Homo sapiens: one gene and its partners. The protein of the gene in region 1 purifies or fractionates together with the protein of each later gene. This does not show direct contact. Each region holds a gene or a part of one and is shown in the gene's direction. Other genes may lie near its edges. The genes, in order: DLGAP5, RNF10, RSRC1, CORO1C and MACROH2A2.

Evidence for each region.
Region 2: the proteins of DLGAP5 (region 1) and RNF10 purify together in Homo sapiens (co-immunoprecipitation; one large-scale study listed by IntAct). This does not show direct contact.
Region 3: the proteins of DLGAP5 (region 1) and RSRC1 purify together in Homo sapiens (affinity purification with mass spectrometry, with the first as the bait; one large-scale study listed by BioGRID). This does not show direct contact.
Region 4: the proteins of DLGAP5 (region 1) and CORO1C purify together in Homo sapiens (affinity purification with mass spectrometry; one large-scale study listed by BioGRID and IntAct). This does not show direct contact.
Region 5: the proteins of DLGAP5 (region 1) and MACROH2A2 purify together in Homo sapiens (co-immunoprecipitation; one large-scale study listed by IntAct). This does not show direct contact.

Annotation. Positions count from the first base shown.
Region 1 is NC_000014.9:55,152,857-55,158,724, reverse strand, and holds part of DLGAP5 (disks large-associated protein 5), read left to right. Parts: coding exon 1-203; intron 204-3,918; coding exon 3,919-4,108; intron 4,109-5,868. UniProt on the Homo sapiens protein: Potential cell cycle regulator that may play a role in carcinogenesis of cancer cells. Mitotic phosphoprotein regulated by the ubiquitin-proteasome pathway.
Region 2 is NC_000012.12:120,537,032-120,542,899, forward strand, and holds part of RNF10 (E3 ubiquitin-protein ligase RNF10), read left to right. Parts: intron 1-5,868. UniProt on the Homo sapiens protein: E3 ubiquitin-protein ligase that catalyzes monoubiquitination of 40S ribosomal proteins RPS2/us5 and RPS3/us3 in response to ribosome stalling.
Region 3 is NC_000003.12:158,542,165-158,547,603, forward strand, and holds the end of RSRC1 (serine/Arginine-related protein 53), read left to right. Parts: intron 1-1,170; coding exon 1,171-1,323; intron 1,324-2,018; coding exon 2,019-2,111; 3' UTR 2,112-3,566; downstream 3,567-5,439. UniProt on the Homo sapiens protein: Has a role in alternative splicing and transcription regulation. Involved in both constitutive and alternative pre-mRNA splicing. May have a role in the recognition of the 3' splice site during the second step of splicing.
Region 4 is NC_000012.12:108,720,800-108,726,667, reverse strand, and holds part of CORO1C (coronin-1C), read left to right. Parts: intron 1-5,868. UniProt on the Homo sapiens protein: Plays a role in directed cell migration by regulating the activation and subcellular location of RAC1. Increases the presence of activated RAC1 at the leading edge of migrating cells.
Region 5 is NC_000010.11:70,105,978-70,111,845, forward strand, and holds part of MACROH2A2 (core histone macro-H2A.2), read left to right. Parts: intron 1-3,055; coding exon 3,056-3,230; intron 3,231-5,540; coding exon 5,541-5,706; 3' UTR 5,707-5,868. UniProt on the Homo sapiens protein: Variant histone H2A which replaces conventional H2A in a subset of nucleosomes where it represses transcription. Nucleosomes wrap and compact DNA into chromatin, limiting DNA accessibility to the cellular machineries which require DNA as a template.

The DNA of each region.
Region 1 (5,868 bases):
TATAGCAAGTAAACCAAAACAGGATGATGCTGGAAGAATTGCAGCGAGAAATCGCCTAGCTGCCATAAAAAATGCAATGAGAGAGAGAATTAGGCAGGAAGAATGTGCTGAAACAGCAGTTTCTGTGATACCAAAGGAAGTTGATAAAATAGTGTTCGATGCTGGATTTTTCAGAGTTGAAAGTCCTGTTAAATTATTCTCAGGTTAGTTGTTTTTGATTTTTTATTTTTTTTGTTTTTCCTGAGACTACTTAAGAGAAATATTTGGGATAGATGGGGGCTTGTGTAAGGTGAAAAATAGTTTTTTACATGAAGAGACATAAGTTTTTCTGTGATTTTTAGAAAATAGACTATGCTCGCTCACAAACACTGTAAATCACATTTTGATGGGTATGATCAGATTAGTTTAAGTGCGATAAGTCTTCTAAGATTGCTTTTCTACTTTCTAAGTGATTTCACATCTGTAATGTAATTACCATGTAACCCTACAGTCTATGAGAAAGGTCACAGGATCCCAAGAGGTAAGAGAAATGACGGAAGCATGAAGAAGTAAACTGATTTTCTTCAGGTCAGTTAGAAGTTTGGTTAGAATTTATAATGCAAAGGAAACTTGAGCATCCAGCTATCACACTTGTCTAGCTGTGCTTTAAAATGAAGCTTATGTGCTGTGTGTGTTGGTTCATGCCTATAATCCCAGTACTTTGAGAGACCAAGGCAGGAGGATCACTTGAAGCTAAGAGTTTGAGACCAGCCTGGGCAATTTAGTGAGATCCCCTCTCTACAAAAAAATAAAATATTAACCGAGCCTGGCAGTACATGCCTGTAGTCCCACCTACTTGGGAGGCTGGGGCAGGAGGATCACTTGAGCCCAGGAGTTCAAGGTTACAGCGAGCTATGATTGTGCCCCTGCACTCTAGCCTGAGTGACAGAGCAAGACTCCATCTCTAAAAAATAAAAGGAAGTTTATGCAAAGTGGATTTGGTTTTATTTGCATTTGTATTAAAACTTTTGCTCAGATCTTTTTGAAAGGTAGTAAACGTACTAATTTTCCAATTTAAAAATATTCCAGTAAAAGCAGTTTTTAATATTCAGGAAATCATTTTTTTGTGATTTTCTCACAGTGTTTGTCATAGCTTTTTTTTCCACAGACTATTTTTCTTGAATTGAATTTATCTCAATTGAAATTATTTATTTATAAGCCATAGATGTCCACCAGGAAGTTTTTTCAAAGTAAACCTAAATTGTTCTCTAATACCTGCTATCTGATATTTATAGTGATCCTCAAGTATATTATAATATTCTTGTTAGTTTAGGTATCAAATCTGGTGTACTTTTGTTTCCTTTAAGCAGCTACACTCCCTGGATACCCAGGAATCTCCCACTACTGCTAATAACATGACTCCATTCTACTACTTGTCAAGGATCTTCGTGGTTTTTACAGCTATAAGCTCATCATTCTGTTCTTTCATATACTCAACTCAGTCCTTATAGATAGGGAGATTAAGGTTTATGGCAAAAATTGGTCATTTAAAATTGAGTTTTAGTTACAGAGCACATAGTTGATATGAGGCTAATTACAAAACAGTAGTCCCTGAAGAAGCCCTTCTCATTCCATTTGCCAATCCCTAGAAGCAACTACTTTCAATTCTTACTGGAGTCTTTTGGACTTACTGGAGTCTTACTGGAGTTTTGTTGTTTACCACCATCTCTCTTGACAAGGTTTGATCTTTTTCAAAAACACATTTTTCTTCTGGTAGACTTTTTAATCTTTCTTTCCTGTACTTACTGTTTTCTTCTACTTCCTGGAGATTTCCTCAACTTTCATGCTGGCTATCATGTTTTTAATTCCCAAGAGCCCTTTCTTACTCTCCAAATGTTCATTTTATAACATTCTGCACTTGTTTCATCAGTGTATTGTTTTATCTTTCCAAGGATATTAATGATAGCTTTTATGTTTTCTTCATCCACTATAGACAGTATTTGTTTCAGGGTACTTTCATCTAGTTGTTTTTGGTTTCTGTCTCTTGTATTTAGAGGCTTTCCTCGGGAATCTGGTGATCTCTCACTGCCTGCACATGGTTAAGAATAGGGCACTAAAAAGCTGACTGGAAACTCTCTGCACATGGGTAGGACCTTTACTTTCGGGGCCCTTCTGTTAGCGGGGCCATTATGCTGGGAACCTACACATCACTGCATTTAAGACTTTTCTCATAGTCTACTCAGATTCCCCAGAGAAGATGCTTTCCATCTGCTTCCTGGAAGGTATCATTCTGGCTGCCAGTCTTTCAGGAGCCATGTAGGGGAAGAAAGCTAAGTGTCTCAACACTTTGTGTAAATATTCACTTATTTCCCTTATTTTCCATGTAGTACCCTGTCTCTCAACTGTATCTGGTATCCTCTAAACCAGAGACCCTTCTGTTTTTGGTGATGGGGGTGGGTGATGACAGTTGCTTTGCTGTGCAGAATGAGGAAAGGAATCTGAGCTCTTCTTGTTTAAACTGACTTTGAGCCATTCCTTCTGTGTTTAGCTCCATTTTCATCTCCACTTGCAGAGATACTTGGAGCCACCAGTTCTTTTGAGGGGTTATGTGGTAGAAATTGGGTTGATTCTCATTTTTCTTTCTTTTTTTTTTTTGAGGCAGAGTCTCACTCTATTGCCCAGGCTGGAGTGCAGTGGCACGATCTCAGCACACTGCAAGCTCCGCCTCCTGGGTTCACGCCATTCTCCTACCTCAGCCTCCCAAGTAGCTGGGACTACAGGCGCCTGCCACCACACCCGGCTGATTTTTTGGTATTTTTTTAGTAGAGACGGGGTTTTACCATGTTAGCCAGGATGGTCTCGATCTTCTGGCCCCGTGATCCACCTGCCTCAGCCTCCCAAAGTGCTGGGATCACAGGCATGAGCCACCGCGCCCGGCCAATTCATTTTTCTTGATTGGTGGCTTAGAATTAGTTTTCTTGAGTCTGCTAAGTCCCACTCAACAATCTACATTATAGCTTCCAAAATATTGTTATTGTTGCTATCTCTTCTTTAGTTTCCTTTGTCCTTGTAGAGTTCTGCTTTTTAAGATTATCTGTGTCCAGGCACGGTGGCTCACACCTGTAATCCCAGTACTTTGGGAGGCTGAGGCAGGTGGATCACCTGAGGTCAGGAGTTCGAGACCAGCCTGGCCAACATGGTGAAACCTCATCTCTACTAAAAATACAAAAAATTAGCCAGGCGTGGTGGCGGGTGCCTGTAATCCCAGCTACTCGGGAGGCTGAGGCAGGAGAATCACTTGAACCCAGGAGGCGGAGGTTGCAGTGAGCCAAGATCATGCCATTACACTCCAGCCTGGGCAACAAGAATGAAACTCCATCTCTAAAAAAACAAAAACAAAAAAAAAGGTTATCTCTGTTCAGGCCTGGCGCAGTGGCTCACACCTCTAATCCCAGCACTTTGGGAATCTGAGGCAGGTGGATCACCTGAGGTCAGGAGTTCGAGACCAGCCTGGCCAACATGGTGAAACCTCATCTCTACTAAAAATACAAAAATTAGCCAGGCGTGGTGGCATGCATCTGTAGTCCCAGCTACTGGGGAGGCTGAGGCAAGAGAATCACTTGAAGCTGGGAGGCGGAGGTTGCAGTGAGCCGAGAGATCACACCACTGCACTCCAGCCTGGGTGACAGTGTAAGACTCTGTCTCAACAACAACAAAAAAATTATCTCTGTTCATGTAAAAGTAGTGGGATGTCAAAAGGAAGCAGCATCTAATATGCATTTAAATACTATCTTTAACAGAAAGTCCCAGGCATTTGTCTTTAACAGACATTATTTGACAGGAGAAAGAGGCTAATTGATAGGATTTTCACCGTATTCCTAGTTATAATGAAAAGCAAAAGAACTATTTGGTATTGAGGTGATTTCTCTCATCTTCTAGGACTTTCTGTCTCTTCTGAAGGCCCTTCTCAAAGACTTGGAACACCTAAGTCTGTCAACAAAGCTGTATCTCAGAGTAGAAATGAGATGGGCATTCCACAACAAACTACATCACCAGAAAATGCCGGTCCTCAGAATACGAAAAGTGAACATGTGAAGAAGACTTTGTTTTTGAGTATTCCTGAAAGCAGGTATTTCTTTAACATGTTAATAAGAGTTTAACAGTTGCTGATACTAAATACCATTTCAGATTGTTAAGATGGTAAAAGGTGCCAGACATATATTTTTAATAAATTTCATAATGACCCTGCAACATATAGGCAGTACTCCCTTTTTATAAATGAGGAAACTAAAGCTTAAGGTTTCAGGATACTAAATGGTCACGTTTAGTTGGGTAAATTCTGCAGCAGTAAGAAGAAAAGAAGCAATATGGTATCCTTTGGTGCTAAACATACTACAACTTTGGTGCTCAACAGTTCTGAGCTGAGAAGAGCTCTGTGACTTACTAGCTATGCAACTTTGGGGCAAGTAATTAATTCTCTTTAGCTTCACTTTCATCATCTACAAAGCAGCAGTGCTAATGCCTCCCCAAGGTGGTTGAGAGATGGACACTTTTTACCAGGCTTTGTAGAAAGTACCTTGAGATTGTTTTCTTGACAGATGGCAGAGCATATTGAAGGGGGGGGAGTTAATGTGTACTGAACAACTGTTATGGGCTAGATATGCTTCTAGATTTTTTTGTTTGTTTTTTGGAGGTGGAGTCTCACTCTGTTGCCTAGGCTGGAGTGCAGTGGTACGATTTCGGCTTACTGCAACCTCTGCCTCCTGGGTTCAAGCGATTCTTCTGCCTCAGCCTCCCGAGTAGCTAGGACTACAGACACGCGCCACCACGCCCAGCTAATTTTTGTATTTTTAGTAGAGACGGGGTTTCACTATGTTGGCCAGGATGGTCTTGATCTCTTGACCTCATGATCTGCCAGCCTTGGCCTCCCAAAGTGCTGGGATTACAGGCGTGAGCCACCATGCCCGGCCTACTTTGTATATCTTGTAGTTTACTATTGTTTGCTAAGAAGATTCATAATTGCATTTGAGTCATAAGTACTCTTTAAAAATGTTTTGGATTCCCCAAAACATCCTCAAAGGGCATCATACAAATAAGCAACTTTGTGTAATAAAGGCAAAGTAAAGCTGGACACTAGAAAAATAGAGCATATCTTTTTTAAAAAGTAACTTGAAAGAAGTGGAGATAAATTTTTTTTTTTTTTTTGAGACGGAGTGTCGCTCTGTTGCTGAGGCTGGAGTGCAGTGGCACTACCTCGGCTCACTGCAACCTCCGCCTCCCAGGTTCAAGTGATTCTCCTGCCTCAGCCTCCCAAGTAGCTGGGACTACAGGCGCATGTCACCACGCCCAGCTAATTTTTTGTATTTTTAGTAGAGACGGGGTTTCACCATGTTAGCCAGGATGGTCTCAATCTCCTGACCTCGTGATCCACCCGCCGCTGCCTCCCAAGTGCTGGGATTACAGGCGTGAGCCAAGGCGCCTGGCCAAAACAGATATTTCTAATAAGATACAAGCTAGTAACTTCAGGATTAGAATACCTTGTATTCTAACTCAATTATTGTCTAGCTGGAGTTAGCTACATTTACTTGTTAACAAGCAGCAGACTTAAGAACATTGTAACTCCTGTTCCGCTTTTTGAACTTTCGGATAAAATTATAGAAATAGTATGATTGAAGTCAAGTTTCTTAGCAGGTACCTGGATTAACAAGTAACGAGTAAATGTAGCTAACTCCAGCTAGACAATAATTGAATTGTTGCTTCTGTCTCCAGAAGTCACCTTCTTTTTGACTTTTCTTTAATATATAGCTCTGGATTTGGCTGAGATTCAGAGTATTGCTGGTAGAGCCACCTGACCCTGACTGACCACCATGGTAACAGACTTGTGAGCTT
Region 2 (5,868 bases), on another chromosome or scaffold:
CAAGTATTTGTCATTGTTAACATTTCAAATGGGCTGGGTGGCTATAATCCCAGCACTTTGGGAGGCTGAGGCAGGCCGATTACTTGAGCCCAGGAGTTCGAGACCCTGTCCTACAAAAAAATAAATGAGCCGGGCGTGGTGGCACGCACCTGTAGTCCCAGCTGTGAAGAGGCTGAGGCAGGGGAGGAGGAAGAGCACTTAAACCCAGAAGTTCGAGGTTGCAGTGAGCCACGATCACTCCACTGCACTCTAGCCTGGGTGGCAGAGTGAGACCCCGTCTCAAAACAAGAAAACTTCTGTAAAAACTCATGTAGGCCGGGTGCGGTGGCTCACGCCTGTAATCCCAGCACTTTGGGAGGCCGAGGCAGGTGGATCATCTGAGTTCAGGAGTTTGAGACCAGCCTGGCCAACATGGTGAAGCCCCGTCTCTACTAAAAGTACAAAAAATTAGTCCGGCGTGGTGGTGCGCACCTGTAATCCCAGCTACTCGGGGGGCTGAGGCAGGAGAATCCCTTGAAACCGGGAGGCGGAGGTTGCAGTAAGCCAAGATTGCACCATTGCACTCCAGCCCGTCTAAAAAAACAAAAACTCATGTAAAGGCCCTTTGTTAGATTTTACAAATAACACATATGTGCCTTGAGGCAGCATTCTTTTTTTTTTGTTTAATGTGTGTGTTAGAAAGCTTGACCATGTTTGCCACCGCCAGTGTCTGCTTTTCTGGCTTCTGCTGTGCGTGTTCGTTTAGCAAGGAAGGATGGGCTTTGTAGCCAAATCCATGCTTCTTCACTAGCCATAATCCACTGCTTGCATTTAGGAACAAATTAAAAGGCAGGATATGTGGAGATTAAAAGGTTAGGAAACTGGATATTGGCTGATTTTTAAAGTTGAAACTAAGCTGCCTTAGGAACGTAACAGCTAAGACCAGTGCTACTACAGCAGATACTCAGGAGCTCTGATGCAGTGACTTCACGATGAGATGGTTGCTCTAACAAAAGGGTACACTCAAGCTCCGCATAATCCCATAAAAAGATTTCTGCAGTATCTCATAAGCTGAACACTTCATATACTTGATTCTGCTGGGAATCATTGAAAGGACCTCTTGAATTACAGAGTACTGAGTTGAGGGGAAAACAAGCGTAAGGTGAAAAGATAGTTTATCTTTTGTCAAGGTGAAAAGAGCAAGAGTTTTCAGTATTCAAATATTTAAGTCACTTTTTTTCTCCCCCTTTTCTACCTCGTGGAAGAAAGCCCTTTGGTTTCTATTCTGTAAACTGTCATTAATGGCCATTTGCTTCCTAGCTACATGATTAATTTCTTTGAGATTTTGTTCCAGTGGCTGGCTTAAATTTGCCCTTCATTTGTACACAGGAAATATGTAAATTTGGCTACCAGGATTTTCTTGATCTTTCCGGCTAGAGTCGCATACCACAGTTTCTTTGCCTGGGCTAATTGCCTGAACATTTATATAACATTCCTTTTCTTGATTATATTCCTACAGCTTCATTCCAGTAGTGTTAATAGGTATTTCTGAGAACATGCAGCAGTAAATATCCTGTGAATATAGCTCAGAGGAGAGAAGGTGGGTTAGAAAGTGGGGAAAGTCATTTAGAGGGAGCAAAGAAAGAGAGGCAAGAGAGAAGGTAGGCCGTTTATGGGCAGGCAGTGGACTCTGGCCAGGAACCAGGCTCTTGTCCCATCCCCCTGGGCCGATAGAACTGCCAGGGAGGTTAAGGGAAGGTCAGGTATTATGAGGCAGTTATTTTGAGGTTGGTGGTATGAAGCACTGCCCTGGCATTCTTCCTGTTATTCTGGTACCAGAAACCAGGTTACTAGTGGTAATCTGCCTTGAAGAATGCCTCTGAGCTGTAAATGGACCTGGAGATTTTAATGGCTTTGAAAATTGAGGTGATTTGAAGCCTTCAGTAAAACCACTTAGAGAAATTAAAAGAATTTCAGGGCCCGTTGGCTGGATTCCTTGGTTTATATGGCTTCATTGGAAGTCTAGTGGGTGCTCTTGACAGGAACGCTTTGGATTTATTAATGATAGGCTTTCAAATCATAGTAAAACTGTGTGTCAGCCACTATGGTAGGCATTTTACAGAAGTTTTCTTTCTTAATCCTCATGATTCTATGAGGAAGTATGGTAGAATATTAGTCCTGTTTCACAGAAAAGAAAATAGAGGCTTAGCAGTGTTAAGAGTGATTTGTCCAAGTAAATTTTTATGAAGTCCTAGGCGGTATTTTTCAATAAGCTTTGTATAATCACACTTAGCAAGCAGATAACTTACTGGCATGTGCATCATTCCTGATACCACCTCTCTCTTCCTTTCATTCAGAATTACTAATTTCAGCTGGATTCAATTTGTTGTCAGTTGATTCTGTAGTAAGGCCATATGTTGCCCCTCTGGAGGTGCTTGTCAACTACTCTGGATGATGGGTAAGCAACTTGCTTGTGATTACAGCATGAATCAGCAGCAGAAACTTGCTGACTGGTATTCTGACCTCTAGGCCGAGCCACCTGTTAGAACTAGAGCTAGAAATGAAGATGCCAAGTAATTTAACTGTGAAAAACTTGTGGCCCTTAATTTGGTAATGGGGGGAGGCTGAGATATACCTACTGCTACTTGGTGGAGACCTTTCCATTAGGGAAATGTGGAACAACTGAGAAGCTGGGTTAAGTTTTTAAGTCATTTATTTGTCGACTCTGGAGCCTGAGTTTAGTGGTCTTGTCCATTTTGGAATGTGTCTTGACAGTAGTTCTTGGCAGTTGTTCTCAGTGGTGGCTGTGCATCAGAATCTCCTCAGGAACTTTTTTTTTTCCCTCAAGACAGTCTTGCTCTGTCACCCAGGCTGGAGTTCAGTGGCGCGATCTCAGCTCACTTTAACCTCTGCCTTCCCGGTTTAAGCAATTCTTCTGCCTCAGCCTCCTGAGTAGCTGGATTGCAGGTGTCCACCACCACACCGGCCTAATTTTTGTATTTTTAGTAGAGATGGGTTTCGCCATGTTGGCCAGGCTGGTCTCAAACTCCTGACCTCATGAGGAACTTAAAAAAAAAAAAAATAGGGGTGTGTGGGGCCCCTTCCTAGGAATTTATTATCTTTTTTTTTTTTGTAGAGATGGGGGTCTCACCATGTTGCCCAGGCTGGTCTCAAATTCCTGGCTTCAAATGATCCTCCCACCTTAGCCTCCCAAAGTGCTGGGGTTACAGGCATAAGCCACTGTGCCTGGCCTTTTTCTGATTCTTTAAGCCTAGATTGAACCCGTGGGTCCTGGGCATTCATAATTTAAAAAGTCTGTGCAAGTGATTCTGGTGTGCAGCCAGGATTGAGAACCACCACTCTGAGATTTAAAACTTCACCCATAGTTCCTTCTCCCAGGAACTTGATATTTTTTGTTTTCCAAAATCTAAAGTGGATCATCTTATCACTCCTGTTCTACCCTCGAGTTTTTCCCATGTATATCCTGGCAAGTTGTCCACAAAACATTTCAAAAATAATACTCTGAATTTTATCTCTGGGTCCCAGGCCTGATGGTACCTTCAACCTTTAGCTGCCTTTTGCCTGGGTCTAGAGATAAGAGCCAGTCTCTCACTTGACATATCTGTCTTCATACCCTTAGGTAACTGGAAGACGAGAAACGAGTTGATTTTGGCAACTAAAATCACTAATCATGATGTGGTCAGTTGTTATGTGTTTTGGAAATGAGCAGTTTACTGTCTTATCAGTGAGCATTTCTGTAAGCATTATGAAACTGTTTCCTTGCCAGTGTGGTAATAAGTGAAGAAATGAAGACAGCCTTCTTGCTGAGTGCCAGTTTACTTTCTTTTTTTTTTTTTTTTTGAGACAGAGTTTTGCTCTTGTTGCCCAGGCTGGAGTGTAGTGGTGCAGTCTCGGCCTTGCCGCAACCTCCACCTCCCGGGTTCAAGCTATTCTCCTGCCTCAGCCCCCGGAGTAGCTGGGATTACAGGCATGCGCCACCATGCCCAGCTAATTTTTTGTATTTTTAGTAGAGACGGGGTTTCTCCATGTTGGTCAGGCTGGTCTCGAACTCCCGACCTCAGGTGATCCGCCCGCCTCGGCCTCCCAAAGCATTGGGATTATAGGCATGAGCCACCGTGTCTGGCCATTTTACTTTCTTAATAAGCCCTTGCCATGTAGAATCTGGCTTTACCTAAATCTATGCAAACCGTGAGGTGCATCTTGAAAGCAGCAGTTAGGGTCAAACAGGTAGGGTCCAGGATCATCTGAAACAGTCTTGGATAATGAGGTTGGAGGATATGTGTTTTCTTTATATACCTATCCTCGTAGAATCTCCTTTGCTTGAGGTGATGTGAAATGGAGTTAAGGAAAGCAAAGCAAGAGAATGTGGCTGAGTTAGCTGGGGTTCTGCATCCCCTGAGTTTTCCTTTTTTTTTTTTTTTGAGACGGAGTCTCACTCTGTCGCCCAGACTGGAATGCAGTGGCACGATCTCCGCTCACTGCTAGCCCCGCCTCCCGGGTTCACGCCATTCTCCTGCCTCAGCCTCCCGAGCAGCTGGGACTACAGGCGCCCGCCACCAAGCCTGGCTAATTTTTTGTATTTTTAGTAGAGATGGGGTTTCACCATGTTAGCCAGGATGGTCTCTATCTCCTGACTTCGTGATCCACCTGCCTTGGCCTCCCAAAGTGCTGGGATTACAAGCATGAGCCATCGTGCCTGGCTTTTTTTTTTTTAGAGACAAGCTCTCGCTCTGTCACTTAGGCTGGCATGCAGTGGTGCAAACATAACTGACTGAAACCTTGAACTCCTTGGCTTAAGAGATCCTTGAACTCTTGAACCACTGTGCCTGGTTTATCTTTTTCTTTTTTTTTTTGAGATGGAGTCTCACTGTGTCTCCCAGGCTGGAGTGCAGTGGTGCAATCTTGGCTCACTGCAAGCCCCGCCTCCCAGGTTCACACCGTTCTCCTGCCTCAGCCTCCTGAGTAGCTGGGACTACAGGCTCCCGCCACCACGCCTGGTTAATTTTTTGTATTTTTAGTAGAGACAGGGTTTCACCATGTTAGCCAGGATGGTCTTGATCTCCTGACCTCGTGATCCACCCGCCTCAGCATCCCAAAGTGCTGGGATTACAGGCGTGAGCCACCGTGCCTGGCCTTTTTCTTTTTTTGAGACAGAGGCTCACTCTGTAGCCCAGGGTGGAGAGCAGTGGTGCCATCATAGCACACCGCAGCCTCAACCTTGGCTTAAGCAATCCTTCCAACTCAGCCTCTCAGCTAGGACTGCAGGTGTGTGCCACCACATTGGGCTAATTTTTAAATTTTTTGTAGAGATGGGGTCTTGCTATGTTGCCCAGGCTGGTCGCAAACTCGTGGACTCAAGTGATCCTCTTGCTTTGGCTTCCCAAAGTGTTGAGACAACCGGCATGAGCCACCAAGTCCAGCGCTGAAACTTTGCTTTCTAATTGTTACTACTAGTGCCATGTTTGACACTAACTGTTGCTAACTGAAGTAATAGGTAAAAGTTTAGTTTTTAAGTTCTAACTTTATTTATTTGTTTTTTGAGACAGAGTCTCACTCTGCTGCCCAGGCTGGAGTGCAGTGGCGTGATTTCAGCTCACTGCAACCTCTGCCTCCCGGGTTCAAATGATTCTCATGCCTTAGCCTCCCAAGTAGCTGGGATTACAGGCGTGTGGCACCACACCTGGCTAATGTTTGTATTTCTAGTAAAGATGGGGCTTCACCATGTTGGCCAGGCTGGTCTCGAACTTCTGGCCTCATGTGATCTGCCTGCCTTGGCCTCCCAAAGTGCTGGGATTACAGGGAGCCACCATGCCTGGCCTTAAATTGTAACTAAGGTAAGGGTCACTGTCCGTAAGCAGGATTTAAGGG
Region 3 (5,439 bases), on another chromosome or scaffold:
ATACAATGGGACATTATTTAGCAATAAAGAATAATGAAGTACTGATACATGCTGCAACATGGATGAACCTTAAAAACATTATGTGGCTGGGCACGGTGGCTCACGCCTGTAATCCTAGCACTTTGGGAGGCCAAGGCGGGCTGATCACTTGAGGACAGGAGTTCGAGATCACCCTGGCCAACATGGCAAGACACCGTCTCTACTGAAAATACAAAAATTAGCCGAGTGTGCATGGTGGTGTGCACCTGTAATCCCAGATACTCGGGAGGCTGAAGCAGGAGAATCACTTGAACCTAGGAGGTAGAGGTTGCAGTGAGCCAAGATTGTGCCACTGCACTCCCACCTGGGTGACAGAGTAAGACTCTGTCTCAAAAGAAAAAATTATGCTAAATGAAAGAACCAGTCATGAAAGACCACATATTGTATGATTCCTTTTATCTGAAATGTCTAGAATAGGCAAATCCATAGAGAAAGAAGATTAATTGTTACCTAGGATGGAAAGGTTGGAAGGAATGGGGAATGATTGCTAATGGTATGAGGTTTTGTGGGGGATGATGAAAATGTTCTAAAGTTGATTCTGGTAATAATTGCACAACTCCATGGATATGTGAAAAGCCATTGAATTATGTACTTTAAAAGGGTAAATTGTATGGTATATGAATTCTATAACTCAATAAGGCTATTTTTCTAAAGATAACCTTTGAATTTACTTTTCATACCTAAATTGGCCAACTAAATGTTGGATATTTGTTGTAAGCTTGTTTTGATTAATAGAATTTAGATATATGAAATATATGTATATTTCAATAGTATAGGCACGTAAGTACCAATTTCTTAAGAAAAATGTGCTTATCATAAGAAATGATTGACATTTTCTCAGCATTTTTCTATTTGTTATTCCTAAAACAAATACAATATAGTTATTCCTATATTCTATTTCTATATATCTATAACTATATTCCTAAATATAGTTATTCCTAAACAAACAAATATAAAAATAAAATAACTGTATTTCTAAAACAAACAAATACAAAAAGTAGGGCCTTTTTGGAGATGGGTATCATCTCAAAGGAGACTAATTGAACAGTTGTTATTCAAAATCAGAAATATTTTTGAAGTAAAACTCTAATTGTGTATTGTGTTGAAATTAATATGTGTTGTTTCTTTCAGTCAGTGGAACCTAGTGAAGTGAAACAAGCAACTTCAACATCAGGACCAGCATCAGCAGTTGCTGATCCACCCAGTACTGAAAAAGAAATAGATCCTACCAGCATCCCTACTGCTATCAAGTACCAAGATGACAATTCCCTGGCCCATCCAAATGTAATATCCTTAAACTTTACGAATGTCAGTTGAAGTCTAATTTACTGAAATTATTTCAATCTGTTATCCTTTTGTGCTAACACCAAGGAGACCATTGGAGGAAACAGGTTCATATTCCCTTGCTAAAAATAGGCATCTGGCCCCCAGGCCTTTAGAACTGTTATCTATATTTGAATACAGTAGGGTCCAACTCATGTTGCCTAACCTGTAGAAGTATTCTGTCTATGGTTAAGAAAAATAGACAAAGAGAAGCATTTTTTCCTTTTTTTTTTTTTTAGCTGAATTGATCAGCACCATGAGAAGTGTTTGTTTAAAAATCTAGCACTAAAAGTTCCATTTCTGAGCTCTACTTTGTTCATTATCAGTGAGCACATCACTAACATCATACTTTGCTGTCTTCCATGAAATGTTGTAATTCTGCTGTTTTGGAAAAGTTATAGGAAATAAACTTCACAAATATAAGGTACAAAATTGTTAAGCAATGATGTTGATACTAGTAGTTCTTTTACTCCAAGAATTTCTGAGCATTACTAATTCCAAATAGATAGTCATCAATTAAGAGGTCATCAAGAGTTAAACAGTATCCAAATCTTGTGTTGAGAGATATATTCTACAAAGGTGAGTTCTGTCATTTTAGGTCAAATTCAAGTTATTGGGAGACAGTAACATTTTTTCTTTTTCTTTTCTTATTTCAGTTATTTATCGAGAAAGCTGATGCTGAGGAAAAATGGTTCAAGAGATTAATTGCTCTCCGACAAGAAAGACTAATGGGCAGTCCTGTGGCCTAAGTAATATACATATAGTTGGATTGGATTGTCAGCAGTAACATTGGAAATTTAGGTTTTTAAATCCCAATATTAACTTTTTACTCTTAAAAAGAATTTTGCTGATTATATATAAAGGTAGTCTCATTTCATTTGTCTCTCATGTAGGCTTGAATATTTGTTAATTTGAATTAAATCAAACATTGTAAAAATTAAAACAAAATTTAAGATTGCATGAAAATGTTATACTGTTAATAAAGCTAAACATAAATAAGTCTGTTAAAATGAATGGTAGACACTAGTGTTTCTTAGTGCAATTCAAAAAATGTCAAGATGTCATTTAAAGACACAATTTTGATTAATTATGCATACATGAGAATTGAATTACATGCTATAAATATGAGATTTCATCTTCCGTATGGTATTCAACCATTTTTAAATATTTTATTTCACCATATTGCAAATTTTTAGGCACAATAAAAAGCACCCTAAACAATGTAAGCAGAATGTGCATGTTAAAGAACATATTTATGGAAAAAAAATTTTTGAAACTTAAATAAATTGGTGATTTTGCTTAGAGATCAGCTTCTACTAGATGCTCCTTTACAACATGTTAGCAGATCTCAGCTCATTGTTTTAGAAATCACATGTTCATGCTAGACCTAACCAGTTGGCCAAATACCTATGATGGAGAAATCATTTCTGAGAAAACTGATAAGAGCTCTCACTTCAGTCTTACTTACCCCACTGCTATTCCCTGTGGAGAAAGCCGGCTAATTGTTTTGATAAGGCTATCTGCCATTGTAGAATACCTTTCTCTAGTAGCTGAATGACAATCAACTATACGTTCCATACTAAACATGCCAGAGATAGGACTTTTAGGCCTTGCTTTACAAAACTGGTTTTTAACAGCTGACATGAATATTTCCCGTTTCTATTTTCTTTTTTTTTTTTTTTTTTTTTTTTTTGAGACGGAGTCTCGCTCTATCCCCCATGCTGGAGTGCAGTGGCGCGATCTCAGCTCACTGCAAGCTCCGCCTCCCAGGTTCACGCCATTTTCTTGCCTCAGCCTCCCGAGTAGCTGGGACTACAGGCACCCGCTAACATGCCCAGCTAATTTTTTGTGTTTTTAGTAGAGATGGGGTTTCACCATTTTAGCCAGGATGGTCTATTTTCTTCTGTTGTCCAGTCACTAATTTAGTCTCTGCGAAGACTGTAGCTCAGAACAAAAGATAAGCAAAAAAAGTCTTCAGGGTAGGACTGCCAACATATAGGACATTTTAATGCCATCTTCTTTATATTTCTGGGACATTAAAATTCAAATCTCTGTTGAAAATGAAAAATGTAAAACTTAGTTGCAAACAGTATAGAAAATAAGTGATGATGAAATATTTGTTTTCATACAAACATGCTTTCCCATTCTAAATAGATGCTAGTTTTCTTTTTTCCTTGGCTGTAAATAAAAGTGCCCCAAATGAACCGAGATTTGTGTGGTTTTTAACATAGATGTATACAATTTTAGTGACTTAAAAAGGGGTTACAGTTTATGAAATATTTTTATTTCATACTTTGTATAACTTATAAACTATAGAAGTACTATCACCCTATTGGAAAGTATATGTTAGTGGTCTGGGCAAGAATATGGGTTATCATTTGGGCCACTAATGATTCTCCAGAGGACCTGGGCTAGGCAGTTTTCTCAATATCCCTGATCTTCCTTATCTATAAAACAGTGAAAATCTGGTCTACTTCAATTATATTTAATACCAGTGTTCCTCTGTGGCAAGTACCCCAAATACAGAAGCTTGAACTGTGACAGAATTGTTTTTTGGGGTTTTTTTTGGGGGGGAGGGCGGTGGTTTGAGACAGAGTCTTACTCTGTCATCCAGGCTGGAGTGCATTGGTGCGATCTCGGCTCACTGCAAGCTCCGCCTCCCAGGTTCATGCCATTCTCCTGCCTCAGCCTCCTGAGTAGCTGGGACTACAGGCGCCTGCCACCATGCCCAGCTAATTTTTTGTGTGTGTATTTTTAGTAGAGACGGGGTTTCACCGTGTTAGCCCGGATGGTCTCGATCTCTTGACCTCATGATCCACCCACCTCGGCCTCCCAAAGTGCTGGGATTACAGGCATGAGCCACCATGCCTGGCCGAAAATCAAATTTTTTTAATGAACTAAACTATGGTCCCTACAGGAATTCGGTAACTACTTCCTTCCTCCCTAGTTTTCAACATGATTCATTTTTATATATTATTAACTTCGTTTACCTGCATTCCTATCAAAGACCACAATATTACCACACAAGCCAAATCAAATTTAATAAAAAGGACTGCATAGAACATGATCAAACATATTGCCTAATTCAAGCTAGCCTTCTTTAATATCCTTATATGGTGAGTCTATAAAACAGAATAATTCCTTTCATGTCACTTGATTAATGATAATAATTTGGACATACATGAGACCTTAAGTGTTTTACGAAACATTGATTTCTTACAAAATGATGGGTACTGATAATACAGGTTGAGTTTTCATTTCTGACAAGTAAGTATATTCTCAAGGAAAATGAAATAAGAGCATTTTTCCTGGCACTCTCTAGTTATGAGGAGTCAAAGAGCTAAAGATATGAGCACAGAATACTTTGAATCATTCACCTCCTTTGCTTCAGCATCCTAACATGTGAAATGAGGATACTAATTGCAGACCTGCCTACTTTGATTTTTCAGTAAAATGACATAAAAGAAAGCCCTTCATAGAAACTTCTGCTATTTATGCCAAGGGAACATTTGACATGATAGACATCTTAGTGAAATGTGGAACAAATAGTTGCTACACTCCAACTTGAATGTGTTTATGTGTGTGCTTGAGCTGCCATGGTCAATAGTTGCCGTTCCAGCGATTTCCTCAGCCTTCCCTGCTCTTCTTCCCTGCCAAGGTCGTAAGAAACCTTACTTACTCTGCAATTAGTGACCTACCATCTACTTATTTGAGAAATCTCAGTTCTTCTTTACAGTCAGATTTACCCATTTATTCATGAATATCATTTTGAGTACCTAGTTCATGCTGGGCACAGTAAGATGTGCTTGGGGGATGCATACCTGAATCCAGTAGAGATCCTGCCCTCAAGAGGCTTAGTTGTGAAGCCCAGACATGTAAATGATGTCAGAGATATAGTACTTAGTGGCAGAGGAGAGGACTTGGTTGCAAAGAAGAGAGAAATTACTGTAAGTTAGAAAATTAAGGAAGTCTTCATGGAAGAAATCAATCAAACTGAGTCTTGAAGGACAAGAAAGCTGGAGCCATAGGAACTCTCAGTCACCCACTTATATCTTCCTGATAGCTATTCTAGAAGGC
Region 4 (5,868 bases), on another chromosome or scaffold:
TTTTTTTTTTTTTAATGTTTTGTAGAGATGGGGTCTCACTATGTTGTATAGGCTGGTCTTGAACTCCTGGGCTCAAGCAAGTCTCCTACCTTAGCCTCCGAAAGTGCTAGGATTATAGGCGTGATGCACCATGCCCAGCCTCTTCATTCTTTTGTTCATGCTCTCCTCTCTTGGGGTGTCTGACTCAAATTAGTATTCTTTAGTTATATTTTGTGTTCTTATGTTCATTTTTTTTTTTTTTGAGACAGAGTCTCACTCTGTCGCCCAGGCTAGAGTGCTGGAGTGCAGTGGCACGATCTCAGCTCACTGCAAGCTCTGCCTCCCAGGTTCACGCCGTTCTCCCGCCTCAGCCTCCCAAGTAGCTGGGACTACAGGCGCCCGCCACTACACCCGGCTAATTTTTTGGTATTTTTTAGTAGAGATGGGATTTCACTGTGTTAGCCAGGATGATCTCGATCTCCTGACCTCATAATCCGCCCGCCTCGGCCTCCCAGATTATGTTTATTTTTAAAATACTTTAATTAAAAATATTTCATGCCGGGCGTGGTGGCTCACACCTGTAATCCCAGCACTTTGGGAAGCTGAGGCGGGCAGATCACGAGGTCAGGGGTTTGAGACCAGCCTGGCCAACACGGCCAACCTGTCTCTGCTAAAAATACAAAAATTAGCCGGGTGTGGTGGCACGCGCCTGTAGTCCCAGCTACTCAGGAGGCTGAAGCAGGGGAATTGCTTGAAACCTGGGAGGCAGAGGCTGCAGGGAGCCTAGACTGCGCCATCACACTCCAGCCTGGGCGACAGAGTTGCACTCCAGCCTGGGCGGCAGAGAAAGAATCCGTCTCAAAAAAATAAATAAATAAATAAATAAATTCACTTAGCACCTTTCTGAGAATTAGGAGAAACCAGTTGGCCATTTCGGGATACCTTTTCTTTGTGTGTTCGTTAAAGCTTGGATTGTGGCAAGGTAGTACAGAAGAGAAAGAAAAATGTCAACTTTTTTGTCTAGTTAGGGACAGTGAGCTATGGGTACCTTCTGTAGTTCTCGTTCTAAGAGAGTTTTGTATTTAGGGGAACTGAGGCCGTGAGGGTGCAGGCCTTTAGGGCCAGATAGAGCTGGGCTTCACTCTTGGCTCCGCTTCTTGCTAGCTGTGACTTTGCCAGCTCCCTCACCTCCCTGAGCTTCACTTTCCTCCTCTGTAGTGTGGAGATGCAAAAGGCTTACCTTGCAGGGTCATTGGCAAGATTAAGCAAGGAAAATTATATGAAGTGCCTAATACAGAGTAGGTACTGAATACATTCCTGTTCCCTCTCTTCTCTCTTAAATGTCTGTTAATGAATGGAACTGCAGAGAAGCAAATAGAGTAAGTTTAATACATTTTACATCTGACATTAAGCTATTAAGGGTATGGATTCCTACTCCCACCTGAGGATTTTAGACTTTGAATCAAAGTTGAGTCACTGAAGAGGGCAAAAAATGTCTAATTTTAGGATGGGAAGGCGGTCTTAAAAACACCTCCAGTGTTTTTGCATCTGTCTGAATTGGAAATGTCTATTCAGACAGTCTTCTCTATTCAGGTCTGTGTATTCAGTCTCTCTGTCTGTGTGTCTGTCTGTCCATTTTAAGGAAAGTTCCTGGCAAAAGATGGATTTTTTTAGGATTTGAAGGAGATTGCACTGCAGTGCTTGAGATAACTCTTCTGGTTACAGTGTGATAAAGTGTAACATCCTGTGTGGGAAAAGAGCCTCTATAGTTTTATGGTATGTTAAATTAGGCCTGTCATTTGGATCTTACATTAATAACAAAAATACAGTTCCTCCCGTTTGCTGCAGTAATGAGTAATTAATATAATGCAAAGGTCAGAGTGAGAGAGACTATAAATGGGAGTAGGAAGGCCTATACATTGTATGTGGAAGGCAGTTATATTTTTTCCCCTTTGGTCAGGCAATGATCTACATTTCTTCTTAAAAATTTATGAATAATGGATTATATTTGGCACCAGTATCTCACCATCTTTTAAAGGATATATTATTTTGGGAGATTTGGGAGATTATTGCTCAGGTACAGAGGTCCTCATTCTTGACTGCCTTGTGATGATCATCTGTGGACCTATATGAATCCAGCTGCCTGGGTGTGAGTTCCCTGGTGACTCTGAATCACAGCCAGAACAGGAAGCACTGTGGGCTGGTCTATTCCTCATTTTACAGATGAGGAGACTTTGGTGGCAGGAGCTTGACAGATTTACCCAAGATCAGGAACTTAACTGCCCCTTCCTTTGTGTGGTATGAATTAATTTTTATAGTTAGTTGTGTGAATTTATAGTATAGTGTGGATTTTTTATTTAACAATGTGAACCTGACATGGCTTTCCCTTTGTAGTCTTTGACCCAGTGCAGCAGTTCCATTTGCTTAGCCTTTCGTCATGCTCTTTTGCCAGATCTGCAAACCAAGCCTATTCACGGAGTTTTCTTCAGTTAATCACCACAGTTGGTAGCATGTACCTATGTTGTTGTTGTTGTTGCTTTTTCCCACATATTCAGGTTGTGCATGTATTAAACTGTGAAGTTTGGTCCAGGTTTTTAGGAGGATTTTTAGATGCATTTTTAGGAAACTTGAAAATACATGATATCTCTTGGATAAACCTTTGGTAAACTTGATTTCTATTTTTAATGTAAAGCTCCTTGACAGTATTTTATTGATCCTTTTAAATTTCCTCAGTCTTATAATCTGAGCACTAGTAAGCAGTGGTTTTAAAGATTTGTCTTGTATTTGGAAGACCGATTATTATTGCAAAGGTGCCCTTGCATTGCATCTTGCCAGAAAAATTGGCATTAGTAGGCCGTCTGTATTTGAAAACACCAAGTTTAGACAGGAACAACACAGGCCCAGTACTGAACTATTAATATATAGATTGTAACAGACATAATGAAAACCACTTAGGATTAGCAAAGGTTGATTATTGTTTCACAATGTGGTTGTTCTGTCTTTGGGAAACCAAGACAGACTGCAAGTCTGGTCACATGGTGGTTTGGTGTAAGAGACTTTCTTGCTCCATTGTGGAACTGGGTGTGGGTCCCCATGTCTCAACAACTGCTGAGGCCTTCATTCTGGATGAACAAAGCTGTAGATTTTTCATGAGAGACCATAGTAGACACACATGGGAAAGGAAGTGTTAGGAGAGTGAAGCCGTCAGGCTGTATTTTCTACTTTTGATATCATAGGGGTGCATGACAAAATTCACAAGCATCCCTTCCTTATGACAAATGTTTAATCACCATTATTTGCTTACTTCACAGGAAAGATACTTAAATTCCTTTTCGTAATGGTCAAGCATTCTTTCCTAGTTAAAGATTCTAATTCCTTTCATTCTTAGGAACTTAAAGAATTGACTGATTTATTAACATAAAAACTCAAATGTGGCTGGAGTGGGGACTGAGGAACACACGTGAAAGTGCGCTGTCATCTCTGTTAAGCAGAGGGATTTATTAGGAAACTAGTCACTTTGGAAGCTAGATGGTGAATTAATTTTGTGGTTAGTAGTATCTTTAGCTTAACAATGTCATCCTAGTTTTTCTTGGCAAGCAAGAGAGAGGCTGGAGCCAATGAGGGCTGGCCACAGTTCTTTGGGGGTGATATTTAATAAGATGCACGTTGTCTGTTTTAGAAATAGAGTAACTGTCCTTTAGGCTCTCTCTTCTGTGGGCCACTGTTGCTTTACAGTGCTACTGTAGGAAAAGATAAGTTGGAAGTCTTCTTTTTTCTCCCTAAGACTGCTAGTTTGATCTTTTTATGCATTATGACAGTGTCTTGAGTGCAGTGGACTGAATTACTTTTATCAAGTAGAACAAATAACATATCATACCTTCAAAGGATGGTTATGAACTGTGTGTTTCTCTGAAAGTGAATGAGCAAGAGCCCAGATGAAATTTCTGTTTTGGAGGCAGGCAGTGTGTACATTTGGTCCCCAACTCAAGACTGGGTTGTGTTCCAGAGTCTAACTCAGTTATTTGGAACTCAGATCTACTAGTAGTAATTTCTATCTATTGTGTTGATTCAGCATTGTAAGTGGTGGGTACGTTCCCAGCCTAGACTGAAGGAATCTGTTTAATTCACAGCAGTTTTTGAAATTGTTTATGGTGATAGTGGAATTCTGGATCTTGGGAGCTGGTAGTCATGTGAAAGAGAAGTAAGGACTCATGCCCCATGCCCCAGGAGCCTCCCTGTGCAGGCTGTGTGGCGTCCAGGGGTCTCATGCCACTGCAGCCCTCCAGGTCTGTGCTGGCCCTCCTTGTTCTTCATCCTCCTTCATCTCTCTCTTAATTTGAAGCTTCTACTTCCCTGGTTAAGCTCACTTTCTTTAAATCATGGTAGCAAAGCACATGGTTCAAATTCATTTCCCTGCTAGACTACCGCTGTTATTCAGGGTTGGGATGACTACAGGCTTTATTCATGTCATTTCACTCATGTTCTTTAACCCTTTTAGAGGTGTACAATGTTAATATTTTTAAAGAGGAGGTTCCTTACTGATAAACAGATTGTCTCTTTGAAATGTTTGCATTCAGTCATTACAGCAAGGTTTCAAGGGGAAAGTTGAGCAGAGGCATGTGAAGTCAGGCAGACCCCACGTAAGGAGGCTAGTCCTGATACCTGGAATCAGGAAGAAACCATGCCTGCTTTAGAAAGGTTCTTCCTGTCACTCCAAAACAGTGACTCTGCTAAATTTTTTTCAAAATACTTTCTGATCTTTTTTTTTTCTTTTCCATTTGGGAACTTCACAGCTTGAAAGGGTCTTAGGTTTTGGCGAAGTGGCTTGGTTTCTGTGACCTTTGGAAAGTTGATCAGGGCATGGTAGTGATTGTAAATTGGGGCATCTTATAATGGCCAGAGCTGGGCACTCGTCCTGTCTATTTTTCTATTCTTTTATAAACTTATCAAAAAGTCACTTTTTTCATCAAACAGTGGGAAATTATTGACCTCTCCATTCTGTTAGTGCCTCTGTGAAGGGTTTGAACTACTGGTTTCAAAGAACTCTTTTCATTCAAACATTTTATGATGCAAAATATATTAGGGACTTGATTTTTCTGGTATCATTTAAAAAATTCGTATTCACAAAGTCTTATGGCAAGCTTAATGTTTTGATTTACTTTTAAATTATGTAAAAGTTTAAAAAATACATTACAAGCCTCCTCCAGCCCTCAAGCACATGACTCTTTGATGGTGAATTCTGCAGTATAGACTGTGAGCTCTGTGGGAATTCAGGAGACAGGCGTTGGAGAGTCAGTGTTTGTGGGACACTGGGAGTGAGATCCTGCCTGAGGGTGTGCCTAATAGTACTGGGCTGACTCAGAACTGGTGTAATTAGGGAAGAGTAGTGTAAGATGGGTAGATGAGATGGCCCTGATTATGGAAAGTGATGATAATAGGTTATGCATTTATACAATATGTTAGAGTAAAATGTAAATATAGTTTGGTTATGGAGTTATAAAGGTAGGTGAAAGTGTAATTTGTGGGTGTCACTAGTGTTAGTGATTTCTATGCTAATACTAATTACATCTGGGATTAAATGACTAGAGATTGAGTACAGAATTATTTTACAGTTTGTGAAAGTGAACACCTTATAATACTGCTATATTCCATGTTCCTTAAAGGTAGAGGATATCTTACATTTTTTGGTGCCTCCATTTCCTAGCATATTGCCTGGTGCATAGTAGCTGTTCAATAAATGTTAATTGAGTAATTGAATTTCAACTTTGCATGATACACTTGTGATATTGTCAGTCTTTCCATTTTCCTAGAAGATGAAAGGAATAAAGATGTTTTCTATGGCCTAGGACTACTAATTGTAAATATTTGCCGGGTGCGGTGGCTCATGCC
Region 5 (5,868 bases), on another chromosome or scaffold:
GCAGAGAGAAGAGCACTGGGCCCAGACACGCAGGAAGAAGAGAGGCCATTGTGGGAAACTGAGGTGCTGTTAAAAGAAAACCCACAGTGTCACGGAAACCAGGCATCAGCAGTAGCAGCCTCTCAGCAGGACAAGGGGCCAACCTAGAGTCCCCTTTTGCTGTGGTGACTCCCAAGAACTGTGATGGCTCACCTGGGGGAAGGTTCTAGAAGCTCCCAGCAGCAGCACTGCCACCCTCAGAATGCAGGTCTTCACCAGGCAACATCACATTAGGTAAGAGAATGCCCCTAGTCATTATGTGGATAGGTGCTTATACCAAATACCAGGGTCACAGCCCTTGCAATAACTTGACCCTCATCCTTGACAACTCTGGAGAACATTACAAAGCATTATGGCTACAAGCTGTGTTATTCATTTCCAGTTGCCATGAACATACTTTGTTTTGGACTGAAATGTCATCGTGCACTACCCTGAAAGTCATTTTTTACTTGATTGGATGTTTGACATTGCCAATAGGAACATATTCCTTTTATTTAAAAATGACTTTTGGCTGGGTGCAGTATAATCCTAGCACTTTGGGAGGCCGAGGTGGGTGGATCACTTGAGGTCAGGAGTTCAAGACCAACCTGGCCAACATGGTGAAACCCCATCTCTACTAAAAATACAAAAAATTAGCCGGGCATGGTGGCGGGTGCCTGTAATCCCAGCCACTTGGGAAGCTGAGGCAGGAGAATCGAATCGCTTGAACCCGAGAGGCAGAGGTTGCAGTGAGCTGTGATCGAGCCACTGCACTCCAGCCTGGGCAACAGAGGGGCATCCTGTCTCAAAAAAAAAAAAAAAAAAAAGACTTTACATTAGAGGAATACCATTCTGCTAGTAACATGATTATACTTTTAAAATATATGAAATAAATCAGCCATGACTGTAACAAGCCAAACTCTGTCCGGCATACAATAGCAGCCAGGTGCTCGGGAAGATGGCACCATGCAGGCAAGGCCCATCTCCAGGGTCCTTGGTTCTCAGCAGAGCAGCCTCCAGTTTTAGGGGCATCATTGTTCAGTCCAAAGAGGGACACTCTGCTTCTGGTGCACAAATATACGTGGTCGTAGAGTCAGCACGCATGGCGGGCCCCTACCCAGGGCCTCGGTGTATTGTGTGGCCTGGGTCCTGCACTCAGGCGTTCACGTGTGATGACACTGAGCCCCGTCTAGGCACTGGAAGGCAGGGAGCCTACAGCCTCCCCTGATGGACGAAGGGGTCCCTTGGATTTGGCTTCTACCCATGTGAGGAAGTGCAGTCAGCACTTCCCTGACACTGTGGACATTGCCAGGAAATACTTATATAAACTAGGTGGGCATCATAGATTTCCAGTCAGTCTTTCACCTCAACCCCACACACAGCTCTGGAATACGGCGGACACACGTTTCTGTTACAAGTGCTGCCCCTAGTGGCCACGGACCCTTGCTACGCCGATTCCTGGGTTCCTGGAGGGGCACAGGGCGCAGACGGGCAGCGTGGGGGCAAGCATGGCTCATGGCTGAAGCTGCAGCTGCCTCAGGCAGATCCGAGGGAACTGCTCCCCTGGGGAGTCCCACAGGGACTTCCCTCGAGCTTAGCAGCCACGGGGCTTTATCAACTCTGTCACCAATGGGAACCACATTTAGGGGAGTAAACAGTAAAACAAAGGAGTATGACAGAAATTGTGAGACAAGGCTGGCCTAATTCAGTTTCACAGCCCGCTTTTGAAACCCCACTCTCTGCAGGGCATGTGGAGATCATCAAATGGCAGTCCCTGTCAAGGAACTACACAATCAAGTTCAGTGGTTCTCAACTCATAGAAGGTCCTAAAATCACATAAGCATAAGCCCCTGCACCAGACCTACTGAGTCAGGACCTCTGGGTGGTCAGTACCCTGACTCTGTGGGGCCCAGGCACAGCTATTTTTTAAAAGCCACAGTAGGCCAGGTGTGATGGCTCACGCCTGTAATCCCAGCACTTTGGGTGCCTGAGGCAAGAGGATCACTTGAGCCCTGGAGTTCAAGACCAGTCTGGGCAACATAGCAAAACCTCATCTCTATAAAAAAATTTTAAAAATTAGCACATGCCTGTAATCCCAGCTACTCGAGAGGCTGAGGCACTAGAATCACTTGAACCCAGGAGGTGGAGGTTGCAGCGAGCTGAGATCGCACCACTGCACTCCAGCCTGGGCGACAGAAAAAGACTCTGTCTCAAAAAAAAACTAAAAATAAAAAAATAAAAATAAAAGCCACTGTATTCATTTCCTGTGGCTACTGTAACAAATTACCACAAAGTTCGTGGCTTCAGACAACACAAATTTGTCTTCTTACAGTTCTGGAGGCCAGAAGTCCACAATGAGTTTTAAGAGTCTAAGATCCAGGTGTTGGCAGGGCTGGTTCCTTCTGGAGGCTCAGGGAAGGATCCCTTCCTTGCCTTTTCCAGCTTCTAAGCTGCAACATTCCTTGGCTCCTGGCTGCATCGTTCCAATCTCTGTCTCCTTCATCCCACGGCCTTCTCCTGCCTTTGACCTTCTTGCCTCCCTCTTATCAGGTCCCAGGCTCACCCAGACAGTCCAGGATCATCTCCCCATCTCAAGAGCCTTCACTTAATCACATCTGCAAAGTCCTTTTTGCCATGTACGGGAACACCCACAGGTTTCAGGGAGGAGGACGTGGATGTTTTGGGATGCCATTACTTTACCTGCCACAGCCACCAGAGAGGATCTGATGTGTCCCTTTAACTAGGAACCATTGTGAGGAGGTAGCCCAACCCAGGGACTACTTGGCAGACCATATGAAAATGGCGCATCAGAGCAGCATTAAACGCTTCTACCCAAAGCTTGTGCTAACTGTGCAAAGCAATACAGCCCAGCTCTTGCTCTCGTTAAACATAGTCCACATCAGGAGCACAGGATGCTGCCCAGCCAACGTCTCTATCACTGCCTTATCTCCAGATCTAACAGGTACCTGATGAGGTTAGGCTATAACCTAGGAAACCTTAGGAAATAACCCGCGGCATTTTCTCTCCTATGTCCCAGCCGCCGTCAGCCAATCCAGTGGACTCGCAGCCAAATTTGTCATCCACTGTCACATCCCTCAGTGGGGCTCCGACAAATGTGAAGAACAGCTTGAAGAGACCATCAAAAACTGCCTGTCAGCGGCGGAGGACAAGAAGCTAAAGTCCGTCGCGTTCCCGCCTTTCCCCAGCGGCAGGTAAGATGCAGTTCCCCTGAGTTGATTCCTCCGGCTTTTTCCCTGGAAATCAGCTGCTCCCCCACTTACATCTGATCTGGGTGTTGCCAAGGGCTGCCAGCACAGCCAAGTATGCTGACCAGATGACAGGGCAGGAAACCCGGTTTTCATCCTTCAGAAACCATGGGGAAGCGAGCCCACTGGCTCCTAGGCAGCAGGTCTTCCCCGGCTGGGGCCAGCCCCAGTGCCTCCTTGATGTTAAAGCCCCAGGAGGAAGGCTAGCCCAGGGGAGGAGCGGGAGGCAGAGGCCAGCTGGTGTGTTATTTTTTGAGAGCCTTCCAGGTTCAAAGTCCATATTCCCACCAGCTGTCCATGTCCAGGACACATGATCAGAAAACGCCAGGCTCGAAGGCCTTGCTACTCAAAGTGTGGTCCATAGGCAGCAGTGACCGATGTCAGAATGCAGAATCTCAGGCCCCCCATCTCCGACCTCTGGCTCCAGAATCCCCAGAGAATTCCGTTGCTGCTCTGGGAGACTGCAGAGCCAGGAGTTCGAGGCTTTGATGAATACACCCAGAGAAGTGAAAATCTGTCCCCGAGTGATTGCTGAAAAGGAGACTGGGCAATGACTGGATTGTCACAGATCCCAGCTGGGCATTGTTTCAGATACATAATGAGGATATCTGCTGTCACATAAAACATATCCTTTCCCTTCATGCCCCTAGCCAATCTATTGCTTTAATTTTGAACACCCTCTCACCTTGAGAGCTGTCCTTTATAATATAGCTATGGTTTATAGCTGTGTCCTGGGAAGCCCAAGAGGAAAATAATGAGACCTAGGTTCCTGCTGTAATCACACATCAACCTAGGCAAGCAGCATTGAGTCTCAGCATTCCAGGCCCAGAGATGCTGTGAGATGCATTCTTTCGTCGGTGGAACCACGGCAGTGCTGTTCTGTGCTGGAATACATGCGATTGGGAAGAATTCCTATTAACAGGCCCCTCCTGGACCTGCTCCAGGGGTCTCTGTGGCTGACCCCTAACGACCATTCTGGCTGTGTCCCTGGAAGCTGGTGCTGTGGCCCAGCCTGGTGGATGGCACTATCAGTAGCTCCCTGGAACCTGGGGCCTTTAACAAACTTTCATTAACCCCGCCATGCCCGGAGTCACAATGCTGAAATTACATGGGCCTGTGCCTATGAAATATTAAGTGCATAAAAAAGGACTTACGAAGACAGGTTTGGAGCATACATTTTTGCCCTTTACTAAGCAATTGGGTTAGTATATAAACCAGTTTGGAGGGAGCTAATAAAACTTCTGTTTGCTTGTTTGAAGACCAGGTATTTTTAATGCTGAATGGCTAGCATTTTTAAAGCCAAGCTTGACTTGGTCAGGTGACATAGAATCAAATATAGGGAGCTGGCACGGTGGCTCACGCCTGTAAATCCAAAAGCTTTAGGAGGCTGAGGCAGGAGGATCATTTGAGGCCAGGAGTTCGAGACCAGCCTGGGCAACATAACAAGACCCATCTCTACAAAAAATTTAAAAAAAAAAATTTTTTTATAGGCACACGCCTTTAGTCCCAGCTACTGAGGAGGCTGAGGCAGAAGACAGATAGCTTGAGCCCAGAGGTTTGAAGCTGCAGTGAGCTATGATCACACCACTGCACTCTAGCCTGAGTGATGGAGCAAGACTTTGCCTCTGAAAAAAAAACTAATTTAAAAAAAGTATAATAAAAAATAAAATACAGGGCACTCTTCACTTGGCCAGCCCTGTGACCTTGACTAAAATCATTGTGCTTGGCAGGGCACGGTGGCTCACACCTGTAATCCCAGCACTTTGGGAGGCCGAGGCAGGCGGATCACCTGAGGTCAGGAGTTCAAGACCAGCCTAGCCAACATGGTGAAACCCCGTCTCTACTAAAAATACAAAAATTAGCCAGGCATGATGGTGCGCACTTGTAGTCCCAGCTGCTTGGGATGCTGAGGCAGGAGAATCGCTTGAACCCGGGAGGTGGAGGTTGCAGTGAGCTGAGATCGCGCCACTGCACTCCAGCCTGGGCAACAGAGAGAGACTCCATCCCAAAACAAATAAATTAATTTAATCAAATTAAATCATTGTGCCTCTCCGAGTCAGTGTGACACCTATAAAGTGGGGGCAACATGCCCCACCTGCCACCCCCAGGCTGTCCCTTTGGCTAGGGTCAAAGGAGATCATGCATGGACTAGCCCTGCACACAGCAAGGCCCCACCCAGTAAAAACAAAGGCACTTCATGCTCCCATGGGTCCCAGGGACCAAAATGACATCGGCTCTTCTTTTGCTTTGGCACAGAAACTGCTTTCCCAAACAGACTGCGGCCCAGGTGACCCTCAAAGCCATCTCAGCCCACTTTGATGACTCGAGCGCGTCCTCGCTGAAGAACGTGTACTTCCTGCTCTTCGACAGCGAGAGCATCGGCATCTACGTGCAGGAGATGGCCAAGCTCGACGCCAAGTAGCCGCCGCACTTTCCAGCAGGGATCGGAGGACGACCCGAGTCCCAAGAGTGGGGTTTTGCTTTTTAAAAGGAGAGAGGAGGGGTGATGGCAGGGGAGTGGAGGGTGGCCGGGCAGGTCCTGCCGGCGCAGGGAGCCCTCTGCCCTTCACACTCTCCTCCAAAA